Linked DNA regions of Homo sapiens: region 1 is linked to region 2. Evidence: fine-mapped expression QTL. A gene starts in region 2. The other region holds a variant in brackets. All regions are shown on one strand. Distances are from middle to middle. Region 1 overlaps UNC5C (unc-5 netrin receptor C). Region 2 holds the start of UNC5C (unc-5 netrin receptor C).

The links. PIP is the estimated chance that this variant, and not a neighbour inherited with it, causes the effect. A credible set is the group of variants that fine-mapping cannot tell apart.
Region 1: its variant is the best candidate, but not a certain one, in a credible set for the expression of UNC5C in tibial nerve (GTEx, PIP 0.86).

What each region holds. Positions count from the first base shown.
Region 1 is chr4:95,288,584-95,293,968 of GRCh38, forward strand. The region is part of intron 3 of UNC5C (unc-5 netrin receptor C); the gene reads right to left. Among named protein-coding and RNA genes, the nearest start is that of UNC5C, 260 kb to the right of the region's middle. The variant C/G (reference allele first, on the strand shown) is at 2,400.
Region 2 is chr4:95,546,848-95,552,232 of GRCh38, forward strand. UNC5C (unc-5 netrin receptor C) reads right to left here and starts at 2,126. Exons shown (of 16, transcript NM_003728.4): 1 at 1,887-2,126. The coding sequence starts at 2,010. It overlaps UNC5C-AS1 (UNC5C antisense RNA 1), which reads left to right and starts at 2,301. Exons shown (of 5, transcript NR_183914.1): 1 at 2,301-2,384. RefSeq lists an enhancer at 2,568-2,697.

The sequences.
Region 1 (5,385 bases), 260 kb before region 2:
CAAATAATTGAAATCAGTTTCACTGAGCCATAATCAAAGGGACAGCAGGATTATGCGCTCCCTCTGGAGTTTCTTAGGGAGAGACCATGACTTGCCTCTCCCAGATTCCAGTGGCTGATGGCATTCCTTGGCTTGTGGCTACATCCCTCTAATCTCTACCTCTGTGGTTACACTGCATTCTCTTCTTCAATCTGTGTCAATCTCCCTTTGTCTTTCTCTTACAAGGCATTTGTGATGACCTTTAAAGCCCACCTGGGCAATGTCAGAAAATCTCTCCATCTCAAGATTCTTAACCAAATCTGCAAAGATCCTTTTTCCACATAAGGTTAATATTTACAAATTCCAGAGATTAGGACCTGATGCCTTTGGGGGTCATTATCTATCCTGCTGTGGTGGTTACAAGCATGGAGCCTGGATCTGCTCTGCCATAGTTTAATCCTAGTTCTGTACTTACTGAGGTTGCTATGTTTTCATTTCTTCATCCATAAAATGAAGATAATTCTATTACATATTGTATAGGATTACTGTGATGATTTTAAAAGGTAATATAAATAGCACACTTAGGACAGTGCAGTTACATAAAGAGTCCTCTGTCAATGTACTCATTTACATACCCACTTCCTCCAGCCCCTAAATCAGCATTGCTGTCAAGTGTTCACAGAGTTGATGGTTGTACTGATATTTATTTCTTTAAATTTTACTAAGAAGCCAAACTCCAAATATCAGAAATAAGCTTCTTGCTTCCCAAATTGAACTGGTCTTGACAAAAAGGCCCTCGATCTGTGGAAATTCTGTACTTAGAAGAGCTTCATGTTGTTATCTGCTGCTGGCCAGCTTACTCACTTTCTGACCTAGGCCTGACCCTGCATTAAGCAAATACAGCTGCTGTACTATGATTCACATTTTCATATTTTCAGGTGCTTTTCAGTTAATTCTTTTTACACACTCACTGAACAATGGTGTTGAACACATTCTAATATTTTTTTAAAAAAAGCTGTTTTAATATATTTTCAAAGTGCTCCTCTAGCAAATGATTTCATGGTCACTCAAAGTAATAATACTGTGTTCTTAAAGGGAAAAAAATGTATCTTTCTTCCAATAATGATGGAAAGTGCTAATTATGTTGTCATAGCAGACTAGAATTTATGCTTAAATCACCAAATCTGGCTGTTAACAGGAAATAACTGCTGTGAACCAAACAGTGAAGCATATTTTGGAAGAACTAGATTGGCCTTCAGAGCTTTGGGCATTTATTAAAAGTGAAAAATGCCTGACTTAATGCCATAGAGCCCTGAAATGTTAGCTATGGTTTTCTTTTCCAGGAATAGAGTATCTGATTTTTGCTGGAATTTTTAAAAATAAAGAAAAATATTATTATGCTAAGCAACTCTTATTGTGGTTTGTAAATATAAAGGTTATAGAATATTTTAAAAATTGAAGCTCGGTGCAGTGGCTCATACCTATAATCCCAGAACTTTGAGAGGCCAAGATTGGGGATCGCTTGAGGCCAGGGAGTTTGGAATCAACCTGAGCAACAAAGTGAGAACCCCCATCTCTACAAAAAATAGAAAAACTAGCAGAGTATGGTAGTAGGTATCTGTAGTCCCAGATACTAGGGAGGCTGAGGTGGGAGGATCGCTTGAGCCCAAGAAAGTTAAGGGTGCAGTGAACTATGCTCATGCCACTGCAGTCCAGTTTGGATGACAAGCAAGACCCTGTCTCTGAAAAAACAAATTAAAGAAATAAAAAGTTTGGTGGTGTTTTTTTTTTTTTAACTTATCTTTCCTTCTCAAATATTGTAAACAATAAAACAAACAAAAATCAACTATATGCAGTTCCCTCTATAGTTTGAAAAGTCAAGAATGGTTGTATGTTTTTTGCAACTGTGTGCAATGAACTGGACTGCAAAGAGAAAAGTTTGTTTAAAATTCAGATTCAGTGTTTCCTAAACAGGTGACATGGGCAAGTTAGCTAATATTTCCATGATTCTGTTTTGTTATTTACAAAATGAAGATAACAGAACTTACTTCATAGGATGTCGTATGAAGATTATGATAGTTAACATGAACAAGGGTCTTATAACAGAGTTAGGCATACAGTAAGCATATAATAAATGTTGGCTACTAGGACAGAGACTAAAGAAGAAAGAATAAGGACAATCGACTTTGATTTTTTTCCTGTTGTTTTATAACCGCATTTTGCTTTTGTAAGGGGTAAAGTTTTCGTTCTCTCTTAGGAATTTACCACAAACACTTTCATAATATCATAACTCATAACCAGGAAGAGCGGTTAGAATGATCTGCAGCAAGTCAGCAGAAAGGTAAGCTTGGTAATTTCTTCAGTCGTGCCAAGCCCTGGCTATCACTTACTGCACTGAGATCATTTAAATGAGAGAAATT[C/G]CAGGGAACAAAGACTCTTTAGAAGGGAGGACAATTTCAGCCATTCTTCGTTATTTCTTGACTTTTGGGCATTTATAGGACAAACACATTTGTATTCAGATAGTCTTGTTAAAGAGTTTTTTAAAAAAATAAATATTTCAGCTAGCACTCCAAATGACATCCACTACAGAAAAGAGGAAGAAAAAAAATCCATACAAGCCACTCTTTTATATTCAAAATGCATCTTTAGTTTCAGAAAAAAAATGATTATATGTCATCACAGTATTTTTTAAGGTATGTCTTAGGGATAAATAATAAGAAATATGCCAACTTTATGGATGAGGAAACTGACATACCAAAAAGCTAAGGCTCTTTTCTCAGAGTACAAAAAAAAGAATGCAATGATTGCAGACAAGCTGTTTTCTTGCAAATAAGCATTTTAGCCATAAACTTCACTTTTCATACAGCATAAAACATACTTTAATAACACATTTTTGTCCAGTGTGTTACCAGCCCTGCCTATAACATACGTATAGATGATTTCCCCCAAAATATGACTTATGAGACTGTGTTCTATGAATTCGTTGTCTACCTCTCAGAATAAATATGAGCTATAAATGCCTAAGAATTTGTGGGGCATCCATGAAACTTGGGAACTTCTGACCATCTACAAAAGCAAATATGTTTGAAAAAATATAGACTGACACAATCAGGTATACATTATAATATTTAATCTTGAAATAGGAATAACCTGATAATACAACTGTCAAGATTTATATAAAACAAGAGTATTAATTAATTTATTGTTTAAATATTTTTCCCTTATCTAAAAATGTCTAAAGTATATATTTAATCTTATCCAATTCAAAATATGGCCTCTGTTACTTATAATTGGATTAATGTGGGCTTTAATGGTTGTTATACAAGGTATCATACTACAACTCAGAAATGTACCTTAGTAAAAATGCCATTTATTCTGGTGTACAGGGGAGCCTGCTGAATCCTGCCAGTACATTTGGTGTTAGGCTACTAGAACTGTTTATAGTATGACCTTCATCTTTCAGGATGCTTGTTTAAAGAAATGCATTATTTTTGTTAAATTGTATAATTAATTTTGTTTTATGCCAAGTAGAGTAGACAGGTAGAAAATAAAAAAGTAACACATAAGGCCACAAATCAGGACTTCTGTACATGTGAACCAATATAATAATTCATGAGATTACATATATATATACACATATATATACATATATATACACACACACACACACACACATATATATATATATATATATATATATATATAAATTTTTTTTGTTTTTTTTTGAGATGGAGTCTTGCTCTGTCACCCAGGCTGGAGTGCAGTAGTGCGATCTCAGCTCACCGCAAGCTCTGCCTCCCAGGTTCACGCCATTCTCCTGCTTCAGCCTCCCGGAGATTACATATATATTTAACTGGAGATACTTAAATACAGAAATGTCAATTCATTCATTCCTTTATGATATTTCTTGAGTCCCTACATTGTGACAGGAATCACCCTAGGCGTTTTGAATTAATCAGTGAAAAAACCAAACCCAAATCTTTGCCTATGTGGACCTTACTTTCTAAGGGGGTGAGGGGGTACAGAATACAAACCATTAACTAATAAATAAGTAAATGTATGATGGTTTAGAAGGTGAGAAGTGCTATGCAGAAACGTAATAAGTACAAGAGTGTAGAGGCAATTACGTCCAGCTACCTGATGTTCTTGAATTCCTTGGGGAAAAAAAGTATTTTTATTAAATGAACAAATGATTCACATTGAATAGTATCTTCACTTTTCCCCATCATGTACTTTCAATTTAATTCAATTTTATTTCATTTTTTTATGTTTTAATTTATTTATCAGCAGCCACAGGCAAGGGACGTCTTCTAGGCACTGGAGACAACAAGGAAGAAAAGAAAGTCTCTGTCCTTGTGAAGCTTACATTCTGGTATGGCAGATGGTTAACTCAAAAGAAAACAAATAATGATGAAGAAAAATGTTATGGAGAACAATAAAGCAGGATTAGGATTAGGCAAGTGACAGGGTTGAGGCCCGGATAGACAGACCCCTCTATAGGAGTGACATCTCAGTATAAATCTGAATGAAAGAAGAAAGTAAGCCAGTTTTAGACTTGGGGTAAGAATGTTTCAAGTGAGAAGAAACAGTTCTTGCAAGCAGCCTATATGTGGAATGAATCTATTGCATTCTGGAAACAAGGAAATGGATGTGGTTAGAGCAGACAAAGCAATAAGAAGAGAGGCAGGAAGCCAAGGTCTGTTTATGTTTCTGTATTATAAATAATAGTGAGCTTTTTTTTTTTTTTTTTTTTTTTTTTTGAGACAGGATCTCACTGTCACCCAGGCTGGAGTACAGTGGTGTGATCATGGCTCACTGCAGCCTTGACCTCCTGAGCTCAAGGGATCCTCCTGCCTCAGCCTTCTGGGCTGACAGTAGTATCCCAGCTGGGATCACAGGTGCACACCACCACACTTGGTTAATTTTTTTTGGCTTTTATTAGAGACAAGGTCTTGCTATGTTGCCCAGGCTGGTCTCAAACCCCTATGTGCAAGTGATCCTCCCACCTTGGCCTCCCAAGGTGCTGGGATTACAACGTAAGACATTGCACCAGTTATAAACATTATGCATGTAGAGAATAAGATGTTTTTGTGAATTGCCAGCTGATCTACAAATCCTTGTCTCCTCCTCCCTTCTTTGTACCCAGTGTACTGGTTAAACACATGGACTTGGATGCTGGCCTGACTCACTGCTCCATATACCACCTGTATAACCTCAGGCGATTTTTAATCTCCCGTTGCTCTCAATTTCCTTGTCTATAAAATGGGAATAATAATAACACTCATCACATAGAGTCCTTGCAAAGACTGAATGATCTAATACATAATACATGATTGAAACAGCACTTCCATTATTATCAGTATTATTATTCTGGAGCCTATCTGTCCAATGCAAACCACATGAGGC
Region 2 (5,385 bases):
AGCAGGAATCCTATCTCTTGTTTGGCATCTTTGGGGACTTTAACTTGTCTTTTTCCCAAACAGTTCTCTCACCGTGCCCCGTCCCCCTCTCCCGCCACCCACCCCCATGGCTCAGTCCTTTGTATGCCCAGTAACAGCAGGCGAATTCCACAGGGAGTCGCGCGGTTGATTCCACGACTATTCATAAGGTTGTTCACTTAAGCTTCCAAACACCCCCCTCTAAGCACCCTTGGCTAGCGCCCTGAGAACTTCTTATCAATTTTAGGAAATCCACAAGCTATGATTCTCGGTGGAGATTCCTTTTTAAATAGACAGACAGATGAACTCTGGAGGTGTGCATAAGAAAACCAGAGCAGAACCTCAGGGATGGGAGGCATCTGGCGAGAAAGGAAGGAAGGATTTATGAGCAGGGCCACTTAGCAGGGCAGCAGGAAAATTTACTTCCGAAGAAGCTATCGCTAATTCACAAAGCCTTGCTAATCACTTACCTCTCCACCCAGACCGCACTCCTATGCTAGGCGCTCTCCTCCGCTTCCAACACCCCCATCCCCACCCCCAGCGCCTCTCTAAGATCAGAGGGAATGCTGTCCGGAAACCCTAGGGTGTCTGAACATCACCTGGGGAGTTGGGGCTATCGTAAAGCCTCCCTTTACTCTCCAAATTTGGAAGGAAGAGTAACCGAGAGTGAAGGGAGAATCCCTGAATTGCCTCTGAATGCTGCATAAGCTTCCTTCATTCTCTCCTCTTCCAGGAAAAGCTGAGCTGCCTCGCCTGAGCCGGCTATCACCACTGAAGTGGGCTAAGAGACCCAAGTAGGAGCTGGGCTTGGCCAGAAGTTTTGGGGCCCAGGTGACCTGAAAGAGACCCCGGAGGGGACAGCCTTGGCTCTTTCTTCTGCGCTCCCTTCCAGTCAGCTTTCCCGGCTTTGAAGGCTGGGAGCTGCTGCTAACACTTCAAACTAGGCGGACAAGAAGGGAGCCGGGCGATCAGCTCCGGAGCCTCCCCTCCTCCCTTACCCATCCCCAACTCCCGGCCACACTCTTCCCAACCCGGCTTCGCCCAGGGCCCCGGTCACTTATGTTAAAGTTCACAGGCGTTAAATTAAAATGTCAGAGTTATAAACTGGTCGACTACCCCGGGGAGTTTCGGATTTGGTTTGAACAAGCAGCCGGTTCCCCCAGAGCTCCGGGATTTTCATTTCTACATCCCCTGGTGGGAAGCAGGCATGAAGCGGGGTATGTATGAGTGCAGAGGCATGCACATCCCGGGCCTGCCTCCAGCCGGGTACGCGGATTCGGGTGAGCTGTGTATTTCCACAGCACCTGAAGCAGCAGGCGAGGGGGACGGGTGCTTTTGAGTCCTTGACAGTAATGGACACATTTCCTTAGCTGAGCGCCCTTCGGGGTCTAGTGTGCTCAGAGACTCAGTGAAGATCCTGCTACCCCAGTCTTGGCACAGCGCGGGGAGCCTCTGCGCATCATGCGCTTCGGGGTGCATCTACGGTATGTCACACAGCCACCCGCACCGAGAGTCTTTCCAAACCTCCGTGTGTGCAATATGCAACAACGTGCGCGTGCGGAGCTGAAAGGGCACAAGACACTCCAGGCTCCCACACGTATGGAGACGGATCGGCTGCGTGTCCACACCCCGTTCGTCCCTGGTCCATTCGTGCCCATCTCAGAAGATAGATTAAACATAATAATAATAATAATTATTATTATTATAATCAAAGCTTCTTGACTAGTTGGGAAAGTGGAATTTAGAGTGGTTTCCAGTTGAAAGCAACGAGGCAAATTGAGGAAGTCAAGAGAACTGGGGAGGAGGAGAGGAAGGAGGGAAGGAAGAAGCTAAGGGAGGTGGCCGCGGAGCTTGGCGGACCCCCTTACCTTGGGCGGCGGAGCCAGTGCCGCTGGCGCTGAGCAGGGCCAGGGCAGGTAGCACGAGCATTTGCAGCAAGTATCCCAGTCCCAGTCCGCAGCGGGCCGCTGTCGCCCGCAGACCTTTCCTCATCGTAGACAGAGGTGTGCCGGGGGGAGGGGAGGGGGACAGAGAGACGCGCAAACAGCTGAAAGCCCCACTGGGCAGAAGCTGAATCCGTGCACCGCGAAGCAGTCCGAAGAAATAACGACAACCAAGCGCCACACTCCACTTTCTCCAAAGGCAGGGGCCAAAAGGGGGAGGAGAGGAGACGCCGAGGAGGAGTTTGAAGGTCCCTCTTTCCCAATGCCTTCTAACTGACGTCTCCCGCGAGCGACTGCTCTGCCCCCACTTGGGAAGTCCAGGGAGGCGCAAGGCGGCCACCTCCGCCGCTCCCCCCAGCAGCAGGAGCAGCCGCAGCTCCGCCGCACGCCGAAGTCTGGACTGCTCTCCGGGTCCCCTCGCCTGTGAGGAACACACACAGACACCGGGGGTGGGGGTGGGGGTGGGGGTTGAAGTGGGGGGAGTTGGAGGAGGAGGGAACGGAGGGAGGAAGCTTGGGCACCGTCAGGCGCTCTGGTCTCCAATCTCAGTGTTCTCACGCCGGCGGAGAGATGTCCCGGCTGTCGCTGCTGGGTGGCCAAGGAGGTTCACATCCTAGAGTAGGGCGCACGGGTGCGCGAAGGCGCTCGCCAAGGAGGCGTAGAGGGCGCAGCACAACTCCTCTGGGGGGTAACCGGGGGCGGGAGCACGCCCGCCCGCCTTATGTAAGCAAGGATTGCAGGGAGATCAGCGCCCAGGAGACCAGCTGTGGGTTTGCCCGCTGAAGCCGAGGCGAGACAGACCAGGGGACGAAGCGGCTGCGGAGAGTGGCAGCGCGCCTGCCTCCCGCGGTGCGCCAGACCTGGACGCCGGGAGTGCAGCGGGCGCGCCCCGGGCCACTAGGCTGTGTCCAGTGGAGCTCAGCCTGCCGCCTGCCACCTTCTTCGCCGCGCCGGCAAAGCCTCAGCCGAATTCCCTAGGACTGGACTCGGTCTACGACTTCGGGTCTCGCGGTTGACGAAGCCGGTGCGGGCTCGAACTGAAGTCCTTCTTGGTTGGGGAAGAAGGCATGAAGCTTTTGCACTGCCCCAGCCGGCTGCTGTCCTGGGGTTGTCAGCGCCAGTCAGACTGCTTTATGTTCTGAGCGCGTATGACCCCTTTGCAGTGGAACAGAAACTAAAAGCTCGACGGAAACTCATTCTGCAACAGTGCTTTCTTTGCGTGCATGTTGGTGGCTGACAAGGGTGGTGATGCGATACCGAGAGAAACTCTCTTAGAAAAAAAAAATGCAAAGCAAAATTTGTAGATACTCAAAGTGATGGTGGAGCCTATAACATGTTTTTCAAATTTCTAATAGTGTGTGTAAGAACTCGAGCTGCTATGAATTTGTTTACCTTTCTACAGGAAATAATTGTCTACGTAGCTGGGTTGTGAATCCCTGTGGTCATGATGGAGGGATGCAAGATTGGGTGGGTAAAATAAGACTAGACAAAAGGAAAGTGAATTTATTAAAAGGTCAACACACAGACACAGACAACATTTTGGGAAAAAGAAAATCACTTCCCAAGATTAGCATGTCTTTAAACTAATAATACATCAGGGAATTTTATGCTCTTGGTGCCAAGGGGGCCATGTGTAAACACGCATGCACACACACACGCAGGAAACATGAGGTCTAATTTTGGCTGTGGTCATAACTACTCTGTTACCCTGGGTAAGTCAGGTAACCTGTGAATGTCTCAGTTTCTTCATTTGTGAAATATTTTGATAGTTTCAAAGTTCTCTTAAGTTCTAACATTCTATGATTCTGCCTGCACAGCCCCATCTAGGCAATAAGACCTATCTCGGATGAATCAGGGAGATCCGAAAAGGTAGTATTTGCCAAAGACATTGACAAAACTGGCCACTTCTTATTTCTGTGGAGACTCTGTCCACCACACAAAACCCTTCTTCACTCTCTTCATCTTCTCCATACCAAGACATCAAGATATTTGACAACAGGGTGGGTGCTGGCACCAGACTGTCTGCCTTCAGTTCTTAGCATTTCTTATTACTTGACTGATATTGAACATTAAAGCTAGGTGCCTCTCTTCCCTAATTTGTAAGATGGGTCTAGTAACAGGAACTATCTCATAGGGTTATTTGAGGATTATGTAAGTTAAACATATGTAAAATGCCTGACGCCAAAATTGTAAACTGCTGTTCTTACCATTGATGAAAAATTCCCATTAGCCTCATGCTATCTACACCAGTGCTGTTCAGCAGAAATTTCTGCAATGAAGAACATGTTCATATCTGTACTTTCTGAGGTCGTAGTTATGAGATACATGTGGCTACTTGCATGCAATGTGGCTAGTGTGAATTGGAAATTTTTATTTAATTTTAATTTAAATAGTCACATGTGGCCAGCAGCTACCATATTTTATGGTGTATCGAGGCCACTAATAACTTGTCAAGTATTTTGAGAATGACTTCACAAGGGATTATTATTATACTTTATATTTATATGTACAATTTTACTAAGAAGGACAACAGCTTAAGTACTAAGAAATCTCCACACATACTCACCATCACATCAACGACATCCAAAAGTTATTTATTTACAATTTTATTGCCTGTCTTCTTAAATTAGAATTTAACTCTTTTAAGACAGAGATTTTGCCTTTGTTCATTATTTCAACCACAGCTCCTAAACTGAGCCTGATATATAGTTGGTACTCAATCAATATTGACTGATTTCCTGCCAAAAAAGCTCAATGGGGAAGACTCCTCAAAGTCTAGGACAGCTAAAGAAGGTTGAAATTGTCGCCTACTCCTGTTTGGGGTATTGAGGTACTCAGTGACAGATACCACATGCAATTAGTTCCTTAAAATAAAGAATACGAGATTAAAAGAGGAAATGTAGTTAAATACTGAAATTCAGCCTAAAGATGGCAGGAGAATGGTTTGAGAAGTGGTATAGAGTAATGAGGTGGAAAAGGGGGAAGAGAGTGAGAGCACCACACAAAGGACAGGAAAAACACCAGCAATACATCAGCTTTACACAGCAGGCAAGTTTCCTGCTCTCTACAAGTACAGATGGAACTTGTCTTGTGAATTAACATCCTGACTACTTTTGTTGATCATCACATTTTTTCCTCATGAGAGAAATAATAGTGTTTTATAGGCTCCTGAGAATAGGTTTACTAAAGTCATCGAGATCTGGGTTCAAATGACACTGCTTAGGGAGGCATTCACTGATCAAGTTACCTAAAATAGCAACAATCTATCATCCAAAATATCATTTGCCAGCTTTGATTTTGCATATAACACTTACTTTATATATGTACATATATGTGTATATATATATTTGTGTGTGTGTGTGTGTATACATGTATATATATATGCAGTCTGCAATAAAATGTATGCTTCTCAGGGGAGAAATTT